2 separate regions of the Homo sapiens genome follow, and region 1 is linked to region 2. The links come from fine-mapping of genetic effects on gene expression. A gene starts in region 2. The other region holds a variant in brackets. All regions are shown on one strand. Distances are from middle to middle. Region 1 overlaps PPP3CB (protein phosphatase 3 catalytic subunit beta). Region 2 holds the start of NUDT13 (nudix hydrolase 13).

Region 1 (5,387 bases), 350 kb after region 2:
TAACCAGTGTCCATATTTGCCAAGAACTACATCCTTTTAACACTTCAATTTTCCTTTCCTTATCTTCTTTCTTCCAAATTTCTCCTTTCCCAAAGTTCATCTTCTTCCCCATATTACAATAAAAAAATGAAATCACTGAAATTATTTTCAAATCTTAATATCCAAAAAAAGTAACTTGTTACTTATCAAATAGCATAGTCTCTGAAAGCAATGACTATTTTTTGCAAAATAGTGTGTACTGAGGCTAGGCAGTAAAGAAATACCATTTCACAGTAAAAAAAAAAATAGTAAGATGAATAATCATACCATCAAACTGGTCTTCACCTTCAGTCATTAGTTCATCATCAGAGCAAATACTCAGAACATTTACCAACATTTCTGTCACTATTTGGGAAAAAAAAGTTACATGTTAGCTGACCATATATAACTGTCTATACATACACATAGCAACTATTTTTACAAATGGTCAAATAATGTTTAGCCCAAGAAAGCAAACACATTCTTATACCAAGATCGATGGAATTTAAAAATGCAAAGGCTTTCAAAATGAAAGAAATTCAGTGGATAACAACTCTGAGAGAAAGAGATTCTTTATGGAACAAATTTTCAGGCCTCTCAAAAAAAAAAAAAAATGAAGCCCCATAGAGATAAGAACAGAGATGAATAACAACTGAATGTATACATTTCAAATCTTCATTCATGGATATAGCATAATAAGAAAAAAAATCATGGCAGAGTTTTAGTGGTTCCAAAAAGTCTCAGGATTTAATCTTTTTTTTTTTTTGGAGATGGAGTCTTGCTCTGTTGCCCAGGCTGCAGTGCAGTGGCGTGATCTCGGCTCACTGCAACCTCTGCCTCCCAGGTTCAAGAGATTCTCCTGCCTCAGCCTCCCAAGGAGCTGGGATTACAGACACCCATCGTCATGCCCAGCTAATTTTTGTATTTTTTTTTTTTCTTTTAGTAGAGATGGGGTTTCACCATGTTGGTCAGGCTGGTCTCGAACTCCTAACCTCATGATCCACCCGCCTTGGCCTCCCAAAGTGCTGGGATTACAGGCGTAGGCCACTGCGCCTGGCCTTAATCTTTTAAAAACTGGCTCAGCAACTCTCTTGAAATTTACTTCTAAAGATTACTAATGACTATCTAACAATCTGAACCCTTGGCTCTTTCATAGGCTTAATCCTCTTTGACTATTCTGTATATTTTTTTCCTTCTCTTTTCCCTTGGTTCCCAAGATTCTGCTCTTCTGGTTTTCCCACATTTGGATCATTTTTCCCCAAAACTTTGGATATCCTCAAGATTCTCTCTGCATTATTATTCCTCCTATATGTTCAATCACTTGGAATTTCTGTCTATTATCATATTTACAGTTTCAATTATCACCTCGTTGAAGATGACTCCAAAGTCTGTATCTCCAGTGTTGACCTCTCCTTCAGGCTCTAGATGTCCTTGGCTAGTTTTATTGTCAACTGTCTTTTTTTTTGAGATGGAGTCTCGCTGTCGCCCAGGTTGGAGTGCAGTGGCGCGATCTCGGCTCACTGCAGGCTCCGCCTCCCGGGTTCACGCCATTCTCCTGCCTCAGCCTTTTGAGTAGCTGGGACTACAGGTGCCCGCCACCTCGCCCGGCTAATTTTTTGTATTTTTTTAGTAGAGATGGGGTTTCACCGTGTTAGCCAGGATGGTCTCGATCTCCTGACCTCGTGATCCGCCCACCTTGGCCTCCCAAAGTGCTGGGATTACAGGCGTGAGCCACCGCGCCCAGCCTGTCAACTGTCTTAAACCATTTGTATACTGTATGTTTCCCCTACTAGAATGAAAACTTCATGAGTGTAGGATGTTGTTTAATTCACTATTATAACTTCAGAGCCTGGCACTGTGCCCTGGCACATGACAGGTACTCAATAAATATCTAACAAATAAGTACACAAAATAAGAAAGATAAAAGCAAATTTCAATTAATAAATAAAAATGTCTATTGAATATTAGCACCTAGATGTCCTGAAGGCACCTAGAAATGAACATATCCAAAACAAAATTCAATACTTCTACAAACCACTTTTTCCTGCTAATAAATATACTAAAAGCACCCCACATGTCAAGTACTACATTAAAGCTCTAGGATTCAGATATGAAAGGCACAGTCTCTACCTTCAACAAGCTTACTAACTACTGAAGGAGACATTAAATATCAACTGCAAAAGGTTGATGGAAAACATGCTGTAAGTGTTCAAAGATATGCAAAAGACCTGCTGGGGAAGACCTGCTGGGGAAGGCAAGGCTTTTGCTAGATAACATTTGAGAGGAATCATGAACTAGGAGTTTGCCAAGTGGAGAGGGCAGATAAGGCATTCTAAACAGAAGTTAAAAAAGTGATGTAGTAGTCATTTATCACAACAGAACAGAGAGTCCAGAAAGAAAACCTGATATTTAAGGTCAATTGATTTTTGACAAGGGTGCCAAAACAATTCAGTGGCTAAAGAACAGTCATTTCAACAATGGTCAACTACAAAAGAATAAAGCTGCAAATGGTCACATGCGAAAGAATAAACTGCACTCCCCCTACTGCACATCACATGCAAAAATTAATTCAAAATGGATCAAACACCTAATGTAAGAACTAAAACTCTCAGAAAAAAACGGGCAAATCTTTATGAGCTTGGATTAGGCAATGATTTCTTAGGTATAACAACAAAAACACAAGCAACAAAGGAAAAAACAGATAAATATGACTTCACCAAAATTAAAAAACTTTTTGAAAGAAGCCAGTCACAAAATACCATATACCATATGACCTTATTTATATAAAATGTCTAGCAAAGGCAAATCTATAGAGACAGAAAGATTAGTCTTTCTGATGGTTACACAACTCTAGAAATATACTAAAACCAACTGAATTGTATGCTTTAAATAGATGAATTGCATAGTATATATATTTCAATAAAGCTGTTACGATGTATACCTTAAATATACACAATAAAATGTATTTTTTTAAAAAATTAGAAAACTTTTGTGCTTCAAAGGACAAAAAAAATCAGGCATGGAAGCATGTGCCTGTAATCCCAGCTACCTGGGA[G/T]AATGAAGAAGGAGGATCACTTGAGCCTAGTAATTTGTGTGAGACCAGCCTAGGCAACACAAAGATCCCATCTCTAAAAAAGAAAAAAAAAAAAAAAAAAAAAAAAAAAAAAGCTAGTCATGGTAGGACATGCCTGTAGTCCTACCTACTTGGAAGGCCATGCGGTAAGACTGCCTGAGTCCAGGAGTTTGAGATTGCAGTGAGTTACGATTGCACTCCAACATTCTAGCCTAGATGATGGAGTGAAAGCCTAAAGGACATTATCAAGAAAGTGAAAGTCAGCTAGGCCGGGGGTCATGCCTGTAATCCCAGCATTTCAGGAGGCTGAGCAGGTGGATCACTTGAGACCAGAAGTTTGAGATCAGCCTTACCAACATGGTGAAACCCTGTCTCTACTAAAAATACAAAAATTAGCCGGGCATGGTGGCACATGCCTGTAATCCCAGCTACTTGGGAGGGTGAAGCAGGAGAATCGCTTGAATCTGGGAGGTGGAGGTTGCAGTGAGCCAAGATGGTACCACTGCACTCCAGTCTGGGTGACACAGCAAGACCCTGTCTCAAAAAAAAAAAAAAAGAAAGAAAGAAAGAAAGTGAAAGTGGAATGGGAGAAAATTATTTGTAAATCATATACGTAAGGGACTTGCATATAGAATATCTAAAAAACACAACTCAATAATTATCTCCCATGAAACAACTGAGACAGAAAAATACTGCATGTTCTCATAAGTGGAAGCTAAATAATATATGTACATGGAGGTAGAGTGTGGAATGATAGACAAAGGAGACTTGGAAGGGTAGAGAGGTGGGAGAGGTGTGGAAGATGAAATTACTTAATAAGTACAATGTATGCTAGTCTGGTGATAGATACACTAAAAGCCTTGACTTCACCACTATGCAATATATCTATGTAACAAAATTACACTTATACTTCATAAATTTATATAGACAACAAAAAAATGTTTTGTTTTATTTTTTAGAGACGGAGTCTCACTCTGTTGTCCAGGCTGGAGTGCAGTGGTGTGATCTTGGCTCATTGCAACCTCTGTCTCCCAGGTTCAAGCAATTCTCCTGCTTCAGCCTCCTGAGTAGCTGGGATTACAGGCACGCACCACCACACTCAGCTAATTTTTGTATTTTTAGTAGAGACAGGGTTTCACCATGTTGGCCAGGCTGGTCTTGAATTCCTGACCTCAGGTAATCCACCCGCCCCGGCCTCCCAAAATGCTGGGATTACAGGTGTGAGCCACCGCACCTGGCAAAAAAATTTTTTAATAAAGAAAATTTTAAGACAAATAACCCAATTATAAAATAAGCAAAGGATTTGAAAATATATTCATCCTCGGCTGGGTGTGGTAGCTCATGCCTGTCACCCTAGCACCCTGGGAGGCCAAAGCGGGTAGACTGCTTGAGCTCAGGAGTTACCAGCCTGGGCAACATGGCGAAACCCTGTCTCTATATTAAAATATACATGTATTTTCTATATTAAAATATATTTTACATATGTAAAGTATATGTTTATATATTAAAATGTATATTTATTAAAATATATATATTTTTTCATCCAAAGAATATATACACTGCTGATGAAACTGTAAAATGGTACAGCTAAGGCCGGGCGCAGTGGCTCATGCCTGTAATCCCAGCACTTTGGGAGGATGAAGTGGGACAATCACCTGAGGTCAAGAGTTTGAGACCAGCCTGACCAACATGGAGAAACCCCGTCACTACTAAAAAATACAAAATTAGCCGGGCGTGGTGGTGCGTGCCTGTAATCCCAGCTACTCAGGAGGCTGAGGCAGGAGAATCACTTGAACCCAGGAGGCAGAGGTTGCGGTGAGCCGAGATCGCACCATTGCACCCTAGCATGGGCAACAAGAGCAAAACTCTGTCTCAAAAACAACAACAACAATAAAATGGTACAGCTGTTTTGGAAAACAGTTTGGCAGATCCTTAAAAGGTTAATCATAGAGTTACAATATGACCCAGCAATTTCACTCCCAGGTCTATACTCAAGAAAATGAAAACATAGGCCGGGCATGGTGGCTCACGCCTGTAATCCCAGCACTTTGGGAGGCCGAGGCGGGTGGATCAGGAGGTCAGGAGATTGAGATCATCCTGGCTACACAGTGAAACCCTGTCTCTACTAAAAATATAAAAATTAGCTGGGCATGGTGGCGGGCACCTGTAGTCCCAGCTACTCAGGAGGCTGAGGCAGGAGAATGGCGTGAACCCAGGAGACGGAGCTTGCAGTGAGCCAAGATCGCGCCACTGCGCTCCAGCCTGGGCGACAGAGCAAGATTCTGTCTCAAAAAGA
Region 2 (5,387 bases):
CTCAAGCAATCTTCCCACCTCAGTCCCCAAAGTGCTGGGATTACAGGCGTGTGCCACCACACGTAGCCTAAAGTACAAATTTTAATACAGATTTCATAGGATGTGAGGATTAATGACAAATATGTGGGACACTTAGCATAGTGCCTGGAACACAGCAAATGCTCAGTCTGAGCTATTTTTATTATTATAGCACTTAACAATTACTACAAAAAGTTATTTTGACTTTTTAAATTATTAGAGCCCCAATTTCCCCCTAAGCATCCTTAGAATCCATTGACTTTATATCTTGTTTCCCTACAATTTTCTGTGTCTTCCTTAAGGATAATGAACCAATCTGATTTTTTTTTTTTTTTTTTCAGACAATGTCTCGCTCTGTCACCCAGGCTGGAGTGCAGTGGCGCAATCTCAGCTCACTGCAACCTCTGCCTCTCGGGTTCAAGCGATTCTTGTGCCTTAGCCTCCCAAGTAGCTGGGACTACAGGTATGTGACACCAGACCTGGCTTAATTTTGTATTTTTAGTAGGGTTTCACCATGTTGGCCAGGCTGGTCTAAAACTCCTGACCTCAAATGATGTGCCCACCTCGGGCTCCCAAAGTGCTGGGATTACAGGCATGAGCCACCATGCCCGGCCTACTCTGATCTCATCTCTGATCACCATGCTCTTTCCTAGCCTTTCCTCAAACGGCACACTCCCACCCCAGGGCCTTTGCATATGCTTATTTTGCTCTGTCTACAAATCTCTTTCCATAGATATAAATTTGGTTTCTTCATCACCTTCTTCAGGGTCTTTGTTTAAATATTATCTTAACAATGAGGCTGACCATCCTATATAAAATAGCAAAATAATCCCTCTACTTATCTTGCTTTATTTTTCTTCTTAAGCTTTATAACCACGACACATTGTATATTTACTCGTTTGTTTCCCCTTCTAGAATGTAAGTTACATGAGGACAGAGATTTTCATGTTTTGTTCCCTGCTGTATCCTATCCCTATAACAGTCCTAGGCACATTGGGTACTCATTAAATACATGTTGAATGAGTGGACTTCTTCTCTTGGCTGGGTGCGGTGGCTCACGCCTGTAATCCCAGCACTTTGGAAGGCTGAGGCGAGTGGATCACTTGAGGTCAGAAGTTTAAGACAGCCTGGTCAACATGGCGAAACCCTGGCTTTACTAAAAATACAAAAATTAGCCAGGCATGGTGGTGTGCACCTGTTATCCCAGCTGCTCGGGAGGCTGAAGCAGGAGAATCACTTGACTCCGGAGGAGGAGGTTTCAGTAAGCCAAGATTGTACGTACCACTGCTCTCCAACCTGAGCGACAGAGCAACTCCATCTCAAAAAAAAAAAAAGTGTCTTCTCTCATAGGCAAGTAACTTCAGTAGTAAAACGAGAAGAGAGCAGCACCAAAGTAGCTCTGCTGAGAGGTGAAGCCAGCTGGACTTCCTGGGTGGAGTGGGGACTTGGTGAACTTTTCTGTCTAGTTAGAGAATTGTAAATGCACCAATCAGCACACTGTAAAAATGCACCAATCAGCACTCTGTGTCCAGCTAAAGGATTGTAAACACACCAATCAGCACTCTGTAAAAATGCACCAATCAGCGCTCTGTGTCTAGGTAAAGGATTGTAAACGCACCAATCAGCACTCTGTTTCCAGCTAAAGGATTGTAAACACACCAATCAGCACTCTGTAAAAATGCACCAATCAGTGCTCTGTGTCTAGCTAAAGGATTGTAAACACACCAATCAGCACTCTGTGTCTAGCTAAAGGATTGTAAATGCACCAATCAGCACTGTGTCTAGCTAAAGGATTGTAAACGCACCAATCAGCACTCTGTAAAAACGCACCAATCAGCACTCTGTGTCTAGCTAAAGGATTGTAAATGCACAAATCAGCACTCTGTCAAATGGACCAATCAGCACTCCATAAAATGGACCAATCAGTGCTCTGTAAAATGGACCATTCAGCAGGATGTGGGCAGGGACAAATAAGGGAATAAAAGCTGGCACCCCCAACAGCAGCGGCAACCTACTCGGGTCCCCTTCCACGCTGTGGAAGCTTTGTTCTCTCGCTCTTCACAATAAATCTTGCTGCTGCTCACTCTTTGGGTTCGTGCCACCTTTAAGAGCTATAACACTCACCGAAAGCTCCACGGCTTCATTCTTGAAGTCAGCAAGACCAAGAACCCACTGGAAGGAACCAACTCCGGACACACTTCTAGGAGACTACTTCCAGTCAAATGGAATGCGCTTCCTCTGATCAAGAAATGAATCCTACCATAAGTTCAAACATATCTATACATACCTATACAGAGTCCCATCCTTTTAAATTGGAAGAACTTCATGAAATTTTAGAGCTAGTTCTAAAGTGTGCAGAGAGAGAACTAGAGATATACTAAGGTTAAAAGGTATTTGATTCCCACCCCTGCTTCATCCTCTCCCCAGCCTCATAATATATGCCTTCTGTGTATGAGGGTGGACTTAATGACTTTATCTTTTTTTAATTAAAAAATGGATCTAATACTAACCTACTTTCTCCAAGGATACAGTAGTTCTCTTGGTAATAAGATCTTAGATGTTCATGCTTTTGACAATCATGGTTAACTTGCAGCTGGAGAACACAGCAGCATGCCTGGGAACTGAACTACAATTCCCAGAGTGCATCTCTAGGAGGATTCTGGGAAGTGTGGCAGAAGCAGCAATGGTCCCTCCAGGGAACGGAAGCCGTTGAACGTGAACATTTGGAGTTTCCTCTTTTGTGCTGATTCCTGAGGACTAGGAAGGTGCCCCGAAAAGAATTCAGAGTGAGTACAGTGAAACAGAAACCTGCTCAGCTTCTAAGTGCAGGAAGGACTTCACAGGGAGGCATGATCAGAACTTGAAAAAAGGTCGTGGTCACAGCATTTTAACATTTTAGCTTAATCTCTTCCTTTTTGCAGAAACCAGGGATATAACCATAGTTTTGCCTCATAACTGTGGAGCTACATCAGTAACCACAGCTCATCATTTTCTGATACTTTTTTGGAGAGTCATTTAAAAATGGAACTTGCCAACCTCTCACATTGTGCCTTAATTTTTATTTTTTTTTAAAGGAGGGAAAATTATTTTTTAGAAAGCAAACTATAAAGCAGGTCAGTGAGACCTTCAAAGCTGTATTCCCGTGGTTCCTCAGTTTTCCATATTTCCCTGTCCCATGGAGGTCCACAGTCGTGGAGAAACGGACTCTAAACACAGGCGAAGTATCACTTGGTCGCCCAGGCTGGAGTGCAGTGACACGATCTCCACTCACTGCAAGCTCCGCCTCCTGGGTTCATGCCATTCTCCTGCCTCATACTCCCTAGTAGCTGGGACTACAGGCGCCCGCCACCACGCCCAGCCACTTTTTTTTGTATTTTTAACAGAGACGGGGTTTCACCGTGTTAGCCAGGATGGTCTCGATCTCCTGACCTCGTGATCCGCCCACCTCGGCCTCCCAAAGTGCTGGGATTACAGACGTGAGCCACCGCGCCCGGCCTAAAAAAAGGTCTCTTAAATACTAGGGAACCTGGCCTCTTCACGGTGGAAGTAACCACTAGATTCAAGATGGGCTTTTTTTGTTTTGTCTTGTTTTGTTTTGTTTTTTTGTTTTGAGACGGAGTCTCGCTCTGTCGCCCAGGCTGGAGTGCAGTGGCGCGATCTCGGCTCACTACAAGATGGGCTTTTTTGTCACGCTGTAGTACTTTATAATCTTTCTTCTGGAAAGATGAACAGGATAAGAAACGTGTGAATCATTTGTGTTGGGGAGTTCAAAGAAACTCTTAATGTTAAAGCACCTTGCCTCATCATTTAGTAGTTGGGTAAGACTGCTATTACCTTTCATCTCTATCAAACATTGTACTTTTAAAAACATAAATAGCTCTGTGACCATCAGCTCATGAGTCAGCAGCCATGATAATCTACAACTGGCTAAGGTTAATTTAGTAGCAGAAACTAGGCAAAACATCAGGCAGCAGTTCCCAAGGTCCAAGAAACTCACCAAATGAATTCCCTTTGGCTCATGGAATATGGTGAGGTGTTTTGGGGAACAGTGGCATGGAGGTAGCCTCATTAACCAGTTAGTCTCAGGAACTACTATTTTATTAGGCTTTTCTTTTGTCTTAAAAGGAATAAGTACACATGGCTAATTTTTTTTTCAGTACAGAAAAATGAACAAAATAAAAATTACAGGCACCTTTTTCAATATTTGTCTTCATCCCACTCCCCCAAATTAGTCACTCTTTAATAGTTTGGTATGTATACTTCTAGTCATTTGAAAAATATAAATAAGGCCGGGGGCAGTGGCTCTTGCCTGTAATCCCAGCACTTTGGGAGACCCAGGCAGGCAGATCACCTGAGAACAGGAGTTCGAGACCAGCCTGACCAACATGGAGAAACCCCATCTCTACTAAAAAAAATACAAAATTAGCTAGGCGTGGTGGCGTATGCCTGTAATCCCAACTACTCGAGAGGCTGAGGCAGGAGAATCGCTTGAACCCGGGAGGTGGAGGTTGCGGTGAGCCGAGATTGCGCCATTGCACTCCAGCCCGGGCAACAAGAGCGAAACTCCGTCTCAAAAAAAAATAGAAAGAAAAATATAATTAAATACATATAATTTATGTATATTGGTATGTCTGTGTCCTTTTTTTTATAAATAATTAGGTCATGTTAACCAACTGTTACCTGTTTTTTTCTCCAGCTTTATTAAGGTATAATATTAAGGTATTAAAGTATAATATATACTTTTTGACAAAAAAAGTATATATTTATAGTTTACAATGTGATGTTTTGATACAGGTATACATTGTGAAATGATTAAATCTAGCAAATTAATATATTCATCACCTCACATTTTTTGTGTGTGTTGAGAATATTTAATATCTACTTTCTTAGTAATTTCCAAGTATATAATATATTATGAACTATAGTTACCATACAACACAATAGATATCCAGAATTTATTCATCCTAACTGAAACTTTGTACACTTTGACTAGTATCACCTCCAATTCCTCCTTGCTTTTTTTGTTTACTTAATAATGTGTTCTAAGTCTCTCTCCCTGTTACTATATATATATATTTTTTTCACTGTTATATTATTTTCTATTTGTTCTTTTTCTTTTTTTTAAGACGACGTTTTGCTCTTGTTGCCCAGGCTGGAGTGCAATGGCACGATCTCTGCTCACTGCAACCTCTGCCTCCTAGGTTCAAGCGATTCTCCTGCCTCAGCCTCCCAAGTAGGCAGGATTACAAGCGTGTGCCACCACGCCCAGCTAATTTTGTATTTTTAGTAGAGATGGGGTTTCTCCATGTTGGTGAGGCTGGTCTCGAACTCCTGACCTCGGGTGATCCGCCCGCCTCGGCCTCCCAAAG

What was found. PIP is the estimated chance that this variant, and not a neighbour inherited with it, causes the effect. A credible set is the group of variants that fine-mapping cannot tell apart.
Region 1: its variant is the best candidate, but not a certain one, in a credible set for the expression of NUDT13 in whole blood (TOPMed, PIP 0.57).

Annotation. Positions count from the first base shown.
Region 1 is chr10:73,454,106-73,459,492 of GRCh38, forward strand. It overlaps PPP3CB (protein phosphatase 3 catalytic subunit beta), which reads right to left. Exons shown (of 14, transcript NM_021132.4): 10 at 307-384. Among named protein-coding and RNA genes, the nearest start is that of MSS51, 23 kb to the left of the region's middle. The variant G/T (reference allele first, on the strand shown) is at 3,074.
Region 2 is chr10:73,107,764-73,113,150 of GRCh38, forward strand. NUDT13 (nudix hydrolase 13) reads left to right here and starts at 2,692. Exons shown (of 9, transcript NM_015901.6): 1 at 2,692-2,804.